Homo sapiens: one gene and its partners. The protein of the gene in region 3 purifies or fractionates together with the protein of the main gene of each other region. This does not show direct contact. Each region holds a gene or a part of one and is shown on either strand. Other genes may lie near its edges.

Region 1 (3,500 bases), on a different chromosome or scaffold from region 3:
GCATGTTTTCACAGTCAAATAGAAAACCCCTTTTATTGGGAGGCCGAGGCAGGCAGATCACGAGGTCAGGAGATCAAGACCATGCTGGCTAACATGGTGAAACCCCATCTCTACTAAAAGTACAAAAAATTAGCCAGGTGTGGTAGCGGGCACCTGTAGTCCCAGCTACTCAGGAGGCTGAAGCAGGAGAATGGCATGCATGAACCAGGGAGGCGGAGCTTGCAGTGAGCCGAGATTGCGCCACTGCACTCCAGCCTGGGCGACAGAGCGAGACTCTGTCTTAAAAAAAAAAAAAAAGAAAGAAAAAAAAAGAAAACCCCTTTTAGGGAGAAAAAAGAGAATGAGCATCCTCTGATTTAATCTCGTAAGTCAGAATTTATATTTAATTGGAAGACAATTAGAAGGGTGTTTATTTTACTTTTTTCATTTTCTCTGAATCAAATATTTGCTAGGCCAAGCACAGTGGCTCACATCTACAATCTCAGAACTTTGGGAGGCCAAGGCAGGAGGATTACTTGAGCCCAGGAGTTTGAGACCAGGCTGGGCAACATAGCGAGACCACATCTTTACAAAAACATTAAAAAATTAGCTGGCATAGTGGTACACCTTGTAGTCCTAGCTACTTGGGAGACTGAGGTGGGAGGATCACTTGAGCCCAGGAGTCTGAGGCTACAGTGACGTGCCACTACACCCCATGCTGGGTGACAGAGCAAGGCACTGTCTGTAGAAAAAAAATAGTGCTAAGTTACTCTTGTAAACATTAATTAAAAGAATTTGTTTAAACAGTTGGAGAATAAATGTTCCTGCTCCTCAAAGGAAGTCATTAGCACAAAATTATATAATAGTTACCAGATATTCTCATTTATTCATTAATACAAAATCTTAATTTAGGAAAGTTCTGAAAGTACTTCAAGGCAACAAAGATGAGCATTTCTTTTTAAAAATTTCAGAGGCCAGGCATGATGGCTCATATCTATAATCTCAACACTTTGGGGCCAAGATGGGAGGCTCACTTGAAGCCAAGAGTTCAACATCAGTCTGGGCAATAAAGCAAGACCTTGTCTCTACAAAAAATATAAATAAACAGCCAGGCATGGTGGTGCACACCTGTGGTCCCAGATACCTGGGGGGCTGAGACAGGAGGATCACTTGACCTGAGGCTGTGGTGAGCCTTGAACACCACTACACTCCAGCCTGGCAACAGAGTGAAAGCCTATCTCAAAAATAATAATAATAATAATAATAATACATAAAACAAAACAAAAAACTGGGCCATTGTCAAAGAAAATGAATTTTGAATTGTGTTTACAATAATGGTAGGTTGCTAGCCATATTTGTCTGCCTTGTAACAAGTTGCTGCTATTTGGGCACTATCTGGTGAAGGTACCACCAAGTATTGAAGAATCTGAGTCAACAGAGATCTGTCTTCCTCTTCACGAAGTCTGTTTACCCACTCAGATCTTAAACTCTTAGTCCCCTTCCCAGTGACTTCATGCCCTCCCCAATTGAACTGTTCTTCCATGGGAAACAACATAAGCATACACTTACAGAAGAAAATCTTACAAAAAACGTATATAAATTATGGTTAAGAAAGTGCAAGCGCATTTAGTCTAATGTACTAAAACTACACTGAGATACGGTTTTTCACCTTTCAGACTGGCAAAGGCCCCAACATTTAAGAGCACACATTGACAAGGCTAGGAGGAAACAGGCACACTCATGTATTGCTGATAGGAGAATGAATGGGGACAGCCCTTATAACTGGCAATGTGGAAGTTATCTATCAAAATTACAAAGACTCTTACTCTTTTTTTGAGACAGAAACTCATTCTGTTGCCCAGGCTGGAGTACAGTGGCAGGATCAGGGCTCACTGTAGCCTCAACCTCCTGGGCTCAGGCGATCATCCCACCCAAGTAGCTAGGACTACAGGTGCATACCGCCACACCCAGCTAATTTGTTTTACTTTTTGTAGAGGAGGGGTCTCACTATGTTGCCCAGACTGGTGCTGAACTCCTGGGCTCAAGCGATCCTCCTGCCTCAGCCTCCCAAATTGCTGGGATTACAGGACTGGCCAACTTTTATCTTTTGACACAACAATCTCACTTCAGTGAATTTATCCAAAAGATATGGTGTCATTCATAGTGTGAATTGCCACGTGGACGAGCTTCTTCACTGCAGCATCATTTATAACAGCAAATAGTATAAATAAATTATAATACACTTATAAAAGGACTTGAAGGAGCTGAGAAAGAGAATAAATAAATGAATAAATAAGGGAAATCTTTATGTACAAACATGAACAAATCTCCAGTAAACATTGTTAAGCAGCAGAGACAAAAAACATGCAAAAGAGTGTGCATATTTCTTTTTTTTTTTTGAGATGGAGTCTTGCTCTGTCACCCAGGCTGGAGTGCAGTGGCGCTATCTCGGCTCACTGCAACCTTTGCCTCCCAGGTTCATGCCATTCTCCTACCTCAGCCTCCTGAGTAGCTAGGACTATAGGCACCCACCACCACGCCCGGCTAATTTTTTGTATTTTTAGTAGAGACGGGGTTTCACCATGTTAGCCAGGATGGTCTTGATCTCCTGACCTTGTGATCCGCCCGCCTCAGCCTCCCAAAGTGTTAGGATTACAGGCGTGAGCCACCGCGCCTGGCCAAGTGTGCATATTTTTTAATGGAAAAGGCAAGAACATATAAGCAAATGTTCATATTTGCTTTGTTTGTATAAAATAACTCTAGTACGTAAGAAATCTCTCTGACTCTCAGCCTTCACATCTGTGGATTGGAGAATATAATTCTGTTTATGTCATATATAAACTTGTTATGGATTTTTAAAATGTCTTGCAAAGTGGTAGCCACAGGGCAGAAATTCAATGGACAGTCATTCCTCTGTTTCTGTTTCTCTTCAGATTACTACTGTCATAACCATCTAACTCAGGAGTTAGCAATCTATGGCTTGTGGGCCAAATACAGCCTCCCACCTGTTTTTGTAAATAAAGTTTTATTGGAACACAGCCACACTCCATTTATGTATGTGTATGGCTGCTTTTGACTACAATAGCAGAGTTCAGTTGTTGCAACAGAGATTGTATGACCCACAATCCCAAAACATTTACTCCCTGGTCCTTTATAGAAAACATTTGTCAACTCCTGGACTAACTGGTCATGGCCCTTCCCAGTGCAATTCTCAAAATACAGGGTGATGAATCTTCCTAAGCCAGATCTCTCTCCTACACTGTAAATGCCCAATCTTGGTTAACTCATGCCTTCTCTTGTATATTTACAAAGGTCTTCCAAAAGCAGCCATGATCACTCATCAGCGCATATGGTATGGAACTGGCCTCACTTTTGTAAGCGGATTGAAGGCAGATGATGTCATCTATATCACTCTGCCCTTTTACCACAGTGCTGCACTACTGATTGGCATTCACGGATGTATTGTGGCTGGTAAGCTTTTTCTACAAAATGTTGGAGGCGAGTGCACATTTACATTTTCC
Region 2 (2,795 bases), on a different chromosome or scaffold from region 3:
AAAATGCTGGGATTACAGACATGAGCCACCATGCCCGGCCTGAGAACACTAAGTCTTATGTCTGTCTTCAGCTCTTCAAAGCCCCAAAGCACTTGCACCATTGTGTAGTTTTGCAGTGGTCCCAGTACTGGTTCCTGCAGTAAGTACGCTTAATACTAAAATGCACAGGGCATTTGGTCCTGGAGGAAAATAGCACGTACATGCAGCTCGTTCATTTACCAACAGGCTGTTCACTGGCTTTGGACGCCTCCAATGAAGAGGTCACCAAGCTTTCCGTCATAGAGGAGCAGCAGCATTCAGGGAAAGGATGGCGGATCGCAAAACACTCCCCTTGGTGACAGGCTGAAATGCAGAAGGACCAGTATAGAACGCTCCTCAAGCTTTTAGAACTGAGCGTATTTTAAGGTCAGAATCACAACCAAGACAAAAGAATGCAACTCTTTTCATGTCGTATACCTTTGGTAAATTAAGAGCAACTGGTAAAATAAATACAAATCTCATTTGAATTAAGTATTTCATGTTTTTATTTCAAAAGAAAAAAGGATACCAAGAAGCAGAAGAATGAAGCAGTTAAAACCAGCAAAGCTGCAAAGTAGGAAAGAAAGCTGAGGGAGAGATTGATCCGATTTCAACGATGTGGCCACTTAATGCAAACACAGGGGTCTGATGCTGCAAACCTAAGTCACATGAGTCCAGTGACTTCAGCAGGTCCACTGATCCACCACAGTGACAGGGCCAGGCCCCTTCCTGCTGAATCCTAACTTTACACATTCTAGACACATGTCATGCACATACAGGTTACACTTTATGGTTACATGAAATTGCATGCAATTCACACAGAGAATCATTTTGAAGGCACTGTATTTTGCAGCAGGAGCTGCTACTTTCTGGCAAGTCCTTCCTAGGTTGGCTCACAAGTGGTCCTCCTTTTTATTTATTCCTATATGAAACTTTGGTCCAAAAATCAGGTGCAGTCTGATCCTACCCTCCCAGCTGTTTTAGTTTCATGTCTCACCTTCTCTTCCACGTTCCCTTCTTAAACGTAGATGTCAAGCTTAGAAGATGTTTCCTGACAATGAGATCCTGTTTAATTCAGATTTTCAAACAACTTGAGTCAAGCAAGCAGGAGCTTATAGTATGTTGATTTAAAACAAGTTGTTACCAGTTTCCCTTACCCTTGAATTCGGCAAGGCCCATTAATTCACAAATTCCATGATAAGATACATGAGGTTCTGTATGCATAGTAAATGATTTCTAGTTACAATTAAAATACAGCCTTGTATATGTTTAAGTCAACCTTAACTTTTAAAACATGACTTCAGTATACGCAACCTTAGGCTCACTTCCAGATTATAAAGTCCCATTCATGGGGTGCAAATGTTTACATTGTTAGCAAAGAAAATAGCTCTGCATAATCTTTTGACATACATGCACACTTCTAGTTCTAAAATTCAGAGCAAAGCAAGATGACAAGAGATTCCAATTCCAGCATATATTATGAAAGGTTATGGACTGTGACTATCCATCCTTTTGGACCATAAGAAATTCACTTTTAAATTTTTTCTACTGTGCTGTTCTACTATATACTTTTGGTCTATCAACTTGGTAGGCCTGAAAAAAAAAAGTATTTAACCTTCTAAATCTCATAATAGAAATTATGTACGTTGTTCTTTAACCAGAAAGGTTCACTGCTGACTCCCCCACCTCTCAAAAAACAAACAAACAAACAAACACCACCAAAGCTTTCCGCCATTCATGCACATGCTTATTCTGACCCCAACCCCATCCCTACAAAGGGGCAGCAGACAGCACAATAGTCAAGGACAAGGTTTTTATTTATTTATTTATTTATTATTTATTTATTTATTTTTTAAGGAGACAGGCCTCGCTATGTTGCCCAGGCTGGCCTCCAACTTTGGGCTCAAGTGATCCTTCTGCCTCAGCCCCCCGAGTCGCTGTGCCTAGGAGCACGCACCACCACACCTGGCTTAAGTAGAAGGTTCTGAAATCTGCCAGAGGCTGAGCAACAGAAAGCTTCCAATGAGAACTCAGAAGGCATTCACTCTGCCTGAAGTTGTGCTCTGCTCACAGCACGAGTGTGGCTGTCCCTCTCTCGCTCCCACCAGCTACATAATAGGGACTTTCAGGATGCTCCTATAAATACAGACTCCAGAGAGGTTTCCTCAAAAATTAAAAAAAAAATTCTATGCAAATATGTAAGTACTGTCATTGAGGATTACAGAAATACTTTGCATCAACTACAGATGTCTCAAAATAGAATTCTTTCTAGCTCATTCAGTTTTGTTAGAAACACTTCATGTTCTCCAAAAAAGAAAAGCACCTAACGAAAAGCATGTCCTATTCATGCTAGCAAGAAATGAATCCCAAAGGACACGCACCAAGAACCAAAGTAAAAGAATGTCAGCAAAACAGGACCCATCTTTTATCATCCCAAACTGCTATTTCCATCTCTGACTTTCTGCCAAATTATCTTTATCTTCCTAAGACGAAGCAAAGACTCAGAGCCCTCAAATGGCACGGAAGCGGCACCTGGTCTGCCAAGACATTGCTGTTAAACAGAGTCTTTTGGATTAAAACCAGGGAACTCGGAAGGAATGACTACATGGATATAGATGGATAAGATGGAAGATATAAAATAAGAAGGGCAGGAGGGTAAGATTATTCCTTTTTTCCTTTCAAGGCTGACAGTGATAGAATAAACAGCAGCACAGCAGGTTCAGATGATATGAAAACCACTGAATTCTGCCCAGGAATTGAAAGAAGGGCTTCTTCAC
Region 3 (3,500 bases):
TTGGGAAACAAAAAAATTAGTGTGCCTTGCGTTATTGCATAATTTGCTTTATTGTGGTGGTCTGGAGCTGAACCTGCAGTATCTCTGAGGTATGCCTGTATATCCTTCCAGACTTTTTTCTCTTTTTATGTAATAAGTAATAACTAAGTTTGTAGATAGCTGGAGATATAGCTGCTTTTGCCTAACAGTATGCCTTCATTTTCCTTTACATATGTACAGCAACTTCAGATTGTCAAAATGTCCAGTGGTTTTTTTTTTTTTTTTTTGTGAGGATGTATAATAATTTTCCTATTGCTAGAAATGAGTTCCTTTTATGTCCATCTTACATATGCTAGTGGGCCTGAAGGATAGATTCCTGGAAGTGGAATTACTGAGTCAAAGGTTATATCCATGTTAAAACTGGACAGATTCTATTATGTTATCCTCCAAGTCTGCTATATTACTAGAGCATATATGTGTTTATTCTTTGAATTTTTTTGTAGTTTTAGTCATACATAACATTTTATACATTTTTAAACAGTGTATTGTTTTAATAACAATGTGTTGCTTTCCATAAATTTATGTTGTATTTATAATTATAACTTTGAAAATAGTCCTATCCCATCAGGAATATGTTTCATTATTTTCCTAGCCATTGCTGGACTTCTAGGCTGCCTCCCTTAAAAAATAAAAAATTATAAAGAATTCTGAAATGCACACATTCATGAATGTAGCTTTACCCTTTTAGGTAATCTTCTTAGAGTAAGTATTATAGGTTATAGGTAATCTTAGAGTAAGGGTTAAAGGTTAGGAATATTTTGTGACTTTGGGAAATCATAGTAATTTTTTTCCCGAAGTAATTCTGCCTGCCTTGACTTTTTGGTGTGCTGTTTTTATCTTAGTCTTACCAGCATTAGGTCCCATCTGTAACACGTTTTTCTCCTTTGCTAATTTGAAAGCAACAGTGGTAATTGAACCAAGTATTTGATAGGCATGCTGAAGGGAAAGCAGTAGGAGAGACTGGCCTGAGTGTTAAGGCACAGAAGAGTCGGGGGCTCGGGGAGATCTTGGCTCTGCTGGAACAATTAGTGAGGTGAAGAATTCTAGGACCTGGATGACATGCCAGGGAGTGTGATTTAATAGCTGATAGGGAGCCACTGCAGACTCTAAGCTGAGAAGTGCCTGAGTTCAAGGCTGCTGGTGACTGTGAAGGAGGAACGGGAGGAGGTGATAATGGCTGCGGCAGGAGCTGTGGACATGACAGAGAAGATGGGCTTCTCTTGTAGTCATCATAGGAAAAATTCTTGAGCTAGATAGGGCCTAGGTGGTGTAATTTGGAAACCAAGAATGACACATAGCTTGTGGCTGCCTCAGCAAAGTTCGAATCCCAGTCTTACAGGGATGTGGTGAGCTGACGTGCCCTCTTCCCTCTGCAGGTCCAAGACAAGCTGCTGCTATCTGCGTGCCACTTACTGGTCTCACTGGCCACCACCGTGCGGCCCGTCTTTCTGATCAGCATCCCTGCAGTGCAGAAAGTATTCAACAGAATCACTGATGCCTCTGCCCTGCGACTTGTCGATAAGGTGAGGCCCCAGAGCTCCCCCGGGGTCCCCAGGGCTGTGTGACTGAGACCCAAGGAAGCTGAGGAAGAAGAGTCTGGCCTTTGATTTTGTACTCAGAGCTTACAGGCTGTACCAGCATAGACAGATTTCTTATTGTGTGGCACTGACACAGACTCAGTGATTCTCATCGTGCCCATTCTAAGGCAGGCAGTCAGTGTGCTGATTGAGGCGTGGAAAAGCACCTCCCAGTGTGCAGAAAGGTTTTGCTGCTTTGCAGCCTGGTAATTTCGGCCAGTGTTGTGAGAATTCTCTTTGCATTCTTTCTGATTCAAAGCAGTCTGGTTTTTGTTGTCACTGTTCTGTGTGTGTTCTTTGGGGTTGAGAAGTGCCAGGCAAGTGCATTTTCTTAGAATCCTCAAAGGAGGCTCAAGCTAGAAGTTTAAAAACCACCTAACAGGAGGGAGGGCAGGAAGGTTTGAAGAGGGTACCAGAGGGCACCAGGATGTGATTGCAGGATGTGACCTGGTGCTAGGGGCATGGATTGTCACGGATTCTCCTGCAAGTCCTGCTCTAAGTAGCTTCTCAGAGGACTCAGAAGCCACCAGCTGAACAATGCCTGAGATTCAGTGTCTGCAGTGTGATTTTTCCCTCTCTAATACTTCAAGTATCAGATTAGAGAGGAAACGAGAGGTTAGCTCTGGGTTATGCTAGACCTAGACATGGTGCTATTACTTCATTTCATCTTCCTCCCTAAGTTGCCTTCCAGTTGGACCAAAGGCCTTGCCCAGGTTGCAAGAAACGAGCCTGGGGGCTAGGGTTCCAGGTGTGCAGCCAGCGGGTGCTGAAGGCTGTGTTGGGCATGCCGCACCACGGTCTTTGGCTCTGACCTCTGATGGATGCCTTTGGGGTCTCTTGTAGGCCCAGGTGTTGGTGTGCCGAGCCCTCTCTAACATCTTGCTGCTTCCGTGGCCAAACCTTCCAGAGAATGAGCAGCAGTGGCCCGTGCGCTCCATCAACCACGCCAGCCTCATCTCTGCACTCTCCCGGGACTATCGCAACCTGAAGCCCAGTGCTGTTGCCCCACAGAGAAAGATGCCACTGGATGACAGTAAGTGACCCCTAGGCTAGGACAGCTGGGGAAGGAGGTAGGCAGGCATTGTTCTTTGTGGCAGATGAGATTTGCCCCGGAGGCTCCTGAGGTAAATTTTTTTTGTTCATAGTCCCACAGAGGCTGAGCAGGAAGTCATACTTGGGGGTGGGATCCTGCTACCTTTGGAATTCAGTTAAGACAGCAGCCAGACCTATTTCCAGAATCAAACTGTCCCTTCTCTTATTTAAAATGTAAAAAATGCTGGAGCCCTAAGAAAAAATGGAAGACACTGGTGATGGTGCCTTCTGTCTATAAAATACATCTTAAGGTGGTTATTGATCTATTTCAGATGCTTGTGTAGGCAAACAAAGCAGTTCACCTCTACACGCTGGGAAAATGCGCTCAAGAACTATTTTTCCAGATTGGTTTCAACCTTTTTCCAAATACAGATCTTCCAGAGGTTTTGAAAGAGCTTAGTTTCTTAAAAAATGGCACTTGAAGTTTGCTTGTTTATATTAAAGAAAGAGGGAAAAAAATGAATAAGGAAATATCTCTTTGAAATAACAAATAGTACCGAAATATTTTAAAAATACGAGCTCCTTTCACAAAAAGAAAATAATAGAACATTATTAGATGGTGCCATTTATGGAATGTCAGCAAAAATGCTTTGTGAAATGTCAGAAATAGTAATAAATACTATACTCTTTAAAAAACACTACTTTTATAACTAGGAAGATTAACATATGTGCATTGTACAAATACATTAAAATAGAATAATACAAAGAAGGAAAAAGTAACTCCTAAATCTGACCAGTTTTAATATTTTAGAAAGTAACCATTTTAACCATGCTTCCTTCTTACCTTCCCTT
Region 4 (3,500 bases), on a different chromosome or scaffold from region 3:
CATCGGGATAGTCATTCTCACACAACTCAGCCAAGAAGTGTAACAACGTCATCTTCTGATCTGTGGACTTGGTGTCTCGAAGCTTAGAGAAAGAGGAGAAACTGTTAAATCCTGACATGTCCAAGATGGCCTCCTGCCAACACTGAACTCATAGAGGCTACAGCCTTCCTTGTGTTGTCCTGCCCTACCTCTTTGGCTCACCTTACAGAGGAAGCTGATATTGAAGCCAAAAGCACCAGCATTTCTGGAGCCAGCATTCATGTAATTTCCAACAAGCAAGGTAATCTCTAGGAGATTGGAAAAGCTCTCACTCTTACGTAACTCCTCACATGCAGCAGTGACAGACACAATCTCTGGCTTGATATTCTCCACTTGCTCGCTGAATTGTAGCTTGAAGAGAATGGCATTGAGGCGAGGCCGCAGTCGGGGCACAGTGCCCATCTAGTAAAGAACACAAGCAGTTCCATTACAGTCAAAAGAGGGGGAAGTCAGAAAAAGATACACGCTTGAGCCTCCTATGGGAGGATCACAGCTCCAGAGCAGGGAGAAGAGAGAGATTAAGACAGGTTCAAAAACAGACAAGCGGCAAGGAGCATATGCCCAGGCTGCTCTCTAGAGGGGAGGGGAATACAGGAGGTGGAAAACCGCTTACTGCCACAGGCCTCACTCACCACCACGCCAAACTGCTCTGACTCAGCCAGGTCATCATATTCATCCTTCAGTTCAGAAAGCATTTTTAACTGCTCTGGCTCTGGCATTTGCTTAATGAGGTTCTGAAAGACAGAAGAGACATCTCAGCTGGAGGGGAATTCGCTAACAACTCAAGCCTAAACAACTTTTACTCTGTTGTCAGTCCCACACTCTGCTCAAGGACCATACAGAAAGAAACATATGGTGGGAGAAGAGAGGCAGCTACTGAGATGGGGGTACTTTTGCAAAATATACCAGAAGTAATCTGACCACCAGAGAAAAGGCAGTTTCTCAAAGCCAGCATTCATAAGTCAGCAATGCTGGAGGAGGATCCTCTTCATCTACACAGAGATGAGGCCAGTGCCCAGCGACACAGAAGAGCCTGCTCCAGCAGAACCACCTTACTCCTTACCTGGATCATAGACTCAGTCAGAACAGCCTCATTCACCTCCAGGATGACATTCTTAATCTCTTGATAGGGCATGCGGAAGGAACCCAAAAAGATTGCTGCCAGAAAATGAGATATTAAGACATGTTCTTCTCGGTCTGTTCCCGCTTCCAACCCATCCTGCAAACCTATGCTGGATAATCTTCCTAACAGGGCTCTTTTAGGCCAGGCACAGTGGCTCATGCCTGTAATCCCAGCACTTCGGGAGGCCAAGGTGGGCGGATCGCTTGAGCCCCAGAGTTTGAGACCAGCCTAGGCAACATGGGGAAACCTCATCTCCACAAAAAATACAAAAACTAGCCAGGCGTGGTGGTGTGCACCTGTAGTCCCAGCTGCTCGGCAGGCTGAGGTGGGAGGATCACCTGAGCCCAGGAGGTCAAGGTTGCAGTGAGCTGTGACCGCACCACTGCACTCCAGCCTGAGCAACAGAGCGAGACCCGTCTCAAAAAAGTATATATACGTCAAAGACTTTCACCCCACTCTACTTTAGTTCCCCACTCTCAGGACGTGATCCTCAAAGCTGCCTTGACCTTAAACCACCATATCCTATTCCCTAACAAATACATCCTGTTTTTTCAACTCTCCCTTTCTAATCTCTCACTTGACTCTTCAGCCTTATCAGGACCTCTCTTTCCAGTCTCCTGACCATTCTGTTTTCACTGATATATCAGTTCCACTCTGCCTTTCCTATTTCATTAGGAGCCTCTAAACCATCAGTTCATTTGCTCTCTACTATGACTCCCATTAGTATTATTACTCCTACTATTACCTTTCTTTTGCTTCCTTCTCCTTCTGGGTCCCTGGTCAGTCTAGCCATTTCATTTCTCTACTCTGACACCTAGGCTGATGCGGACTGGAGTCTATGAATTTGCAGTAGCACCAATGATAACTGGGGCCTCCGCGCTGTTAGCAATTCTCTTTGTGTGTCCCAATTCCACTTTCTCCCACCCTTCTTGGCAGGTCCTCCAACATATTCCCACTTTCCCCACTGCCCCACCACTTCCCCATTTGTTCCAGGAAGACCCTGCTCCTCTTCACTGAGAAAAATCAAAGCCACTGGTCAAATTACTTGCTCAGCTTTCTCTTATCCTACTTAAAAATAAAGCACTAGGGCTCTTGGTTAGAGCCAGACTAGAAAAGACTCAGATAAGCCTTTTGGAATCGCCTAGAAGAAAACTATACCAACATTTTCGTAAGCTTATAGGAGGCATGTGTTCATATATTTACGTCTAAGTATATATACTCCCATGTACTCATCCTTTCCTCATGTGTCAACAGAAGAGGCAGCCCCACAGACCTTTCCCTTCATCATATATACATAATCAAGTTTTTTAAATCTTACTCAATGTTCCTCTCTAAATTACCAGTTTCTCTTTCTTTCACTTTATAGCAATCTAAACTAGCCTATTCTCTCTCACTTCCACGACTCTGATTTATTCCATAACCACAAAGCCAATGAAAAGATGGCAGCCACTTAGAGAATATACTTTAAGTAAGACACCAACCTGCTACCTCTCACATCCACCTCCCCGAAAAGACAATCTGTTCCTGCTGAATTTTCCTATTTCAGTAAATGGTACCACTTTCCGCAGAGTGACCTAAACCTCAAAGCACCTTCTCCTTTATCCCAAGTCAATCACTAAATTCCATTAATTTTACCTTCTCTCTCTCTCTCTCTTTTTTTTTTTTGAGACAGCATCTCACTCTGTTGCCCAAGCTAGAGTGCAGCAGTGCAGTCATAGCTCATGGCAGCCTGGACCTCCCAGCCTCAAGCAATCCTCCACCCACCTCAGTCTCCCAAGTGGCTGGGACTATAGGCATGCGGCACCACATCTGGCTAGTTTTTTATTTTAATTTATTTATTGCTTGAGATGAGTCTCACTCTGTCACCCAGGCTGGTGTGCAACGGCATGGTGTTGGCTCACTGCAACCTCCGCTTCCCGGGTTCAAGCGATTCTCCTGCCTCAGCCCCATGAGTAGCTGGGATTATAGGCGTGCTCCACCATGCCCAGCTAATTTTTCTATTTTTAGTAGAGACAGCATTTTGCCATGTTGACCAGGCTCGTCTCGAACTCCTGACCTCCAGTGATCCACCTGCCTCAGCCTCCCAAAGTGCTGGGATTACAGCCATGAGCCACTGCACCTAGCCTAATTCTACCATCTTAATATCCTCTCCCTCTCTTATTCTCATCACCTTAGTTTCAGGCCCTGATCACATCTCACCTAGTTTAAAACAATGACATAACTCATCTCTGCCTATAGTCTCCCCTTACCTTAGCAATCCAGCCTCAAAATCACTGCCAAAGCAGCCTTCCTAAAAATTACACAGGATAAAAAGCAATCCAGCCTCAAAATCACTGCC

What was found.
Region 1: the proteins of XPO6 (region 3) and SLC27A2 purify together in Homo sapiens (affinity purification with mass spectrometry; one large-scale study listed by BioGRID and IntAct). This does not show direct contact.
Region 2: the proteins of XPO6 (region 3) and ENAH purify together in Homo sapiens (affinity purification with mass spectrometry, with the first as the bait; one study listed by BioGRID). This does not show direct contact.
Region 4: the proteins of XPO6 (region 3) and DIAPH1 purify together in Homo sapiens (affinity purification with mass spectrometry, with the first as the bait; one study listed by BioGRID). This does not show direct contact.

Annotation. Positions count from the first base shown.
Region 1 is NC_000015.10:50,199,196-50,202,695, forward strand, and holds part of SLC27A2 (long-chain fatty acid transport protein 2), read left to right. Parts: intron 1-3,291; coding exon 3,292-3,450; intron 3,451-3,500. UniProt on the Homo sapiens protein: Mediates the import of long-chain fatty acids (LCFA) into the cell by facilitating their transport across cell membranes, playing an important role in hepatic fatty acid uptake.
Region 2 is NC_000001.11:225,486,329-225,489,123, forward strand, and holds the end of ENAH (protein enabled homolog), read right to left. Parts: 3' UTR 501-2,795; downstream 1-500. UniProt on the Homo sapiens protein: Ena/VASP proteins are actin-associated proteins involved in a range of processes dependent on cytoskeleton remodeling and cell polarity such as axon guidance and lamellipodial and filopodial dynamics in migrating cells.
Region 3 is NC_000016.10:28,110,966-28,114,465, reverse strand, and holds part of XPO6 (exportin-6), read left to right. Parts: intron 1-1,415; coding exon 1,416-1,562; intron 1,563-2,459; coding exon 2,460-2,649; intron 2,650-3,500. UniProt on the Homo sapiens protein: Mediates the nuclear export of actin and profilin-actin complexes in somatic cells.
Region 4 is NC_000005.10:141,528,501-141,532,000, forward strand, and holds part of DIAPH1 (protein diaphanous homolog 1), read right to left. Parts: intron 1,198-3,500; coding exon 1,103-1,197; intron 774-1,102; coding exon 672-773; intron 442-671; coding exon 202-441; intron 83-201; coding exon 1-82. UniProt on the Homo sapiens protein: Actin nucleation and elongation factor required for the assembly of F-actin structures, such as actin cables and stress fibers. Binds to the barbed end of the actin filament and slows down actin polymerization and depolymerization.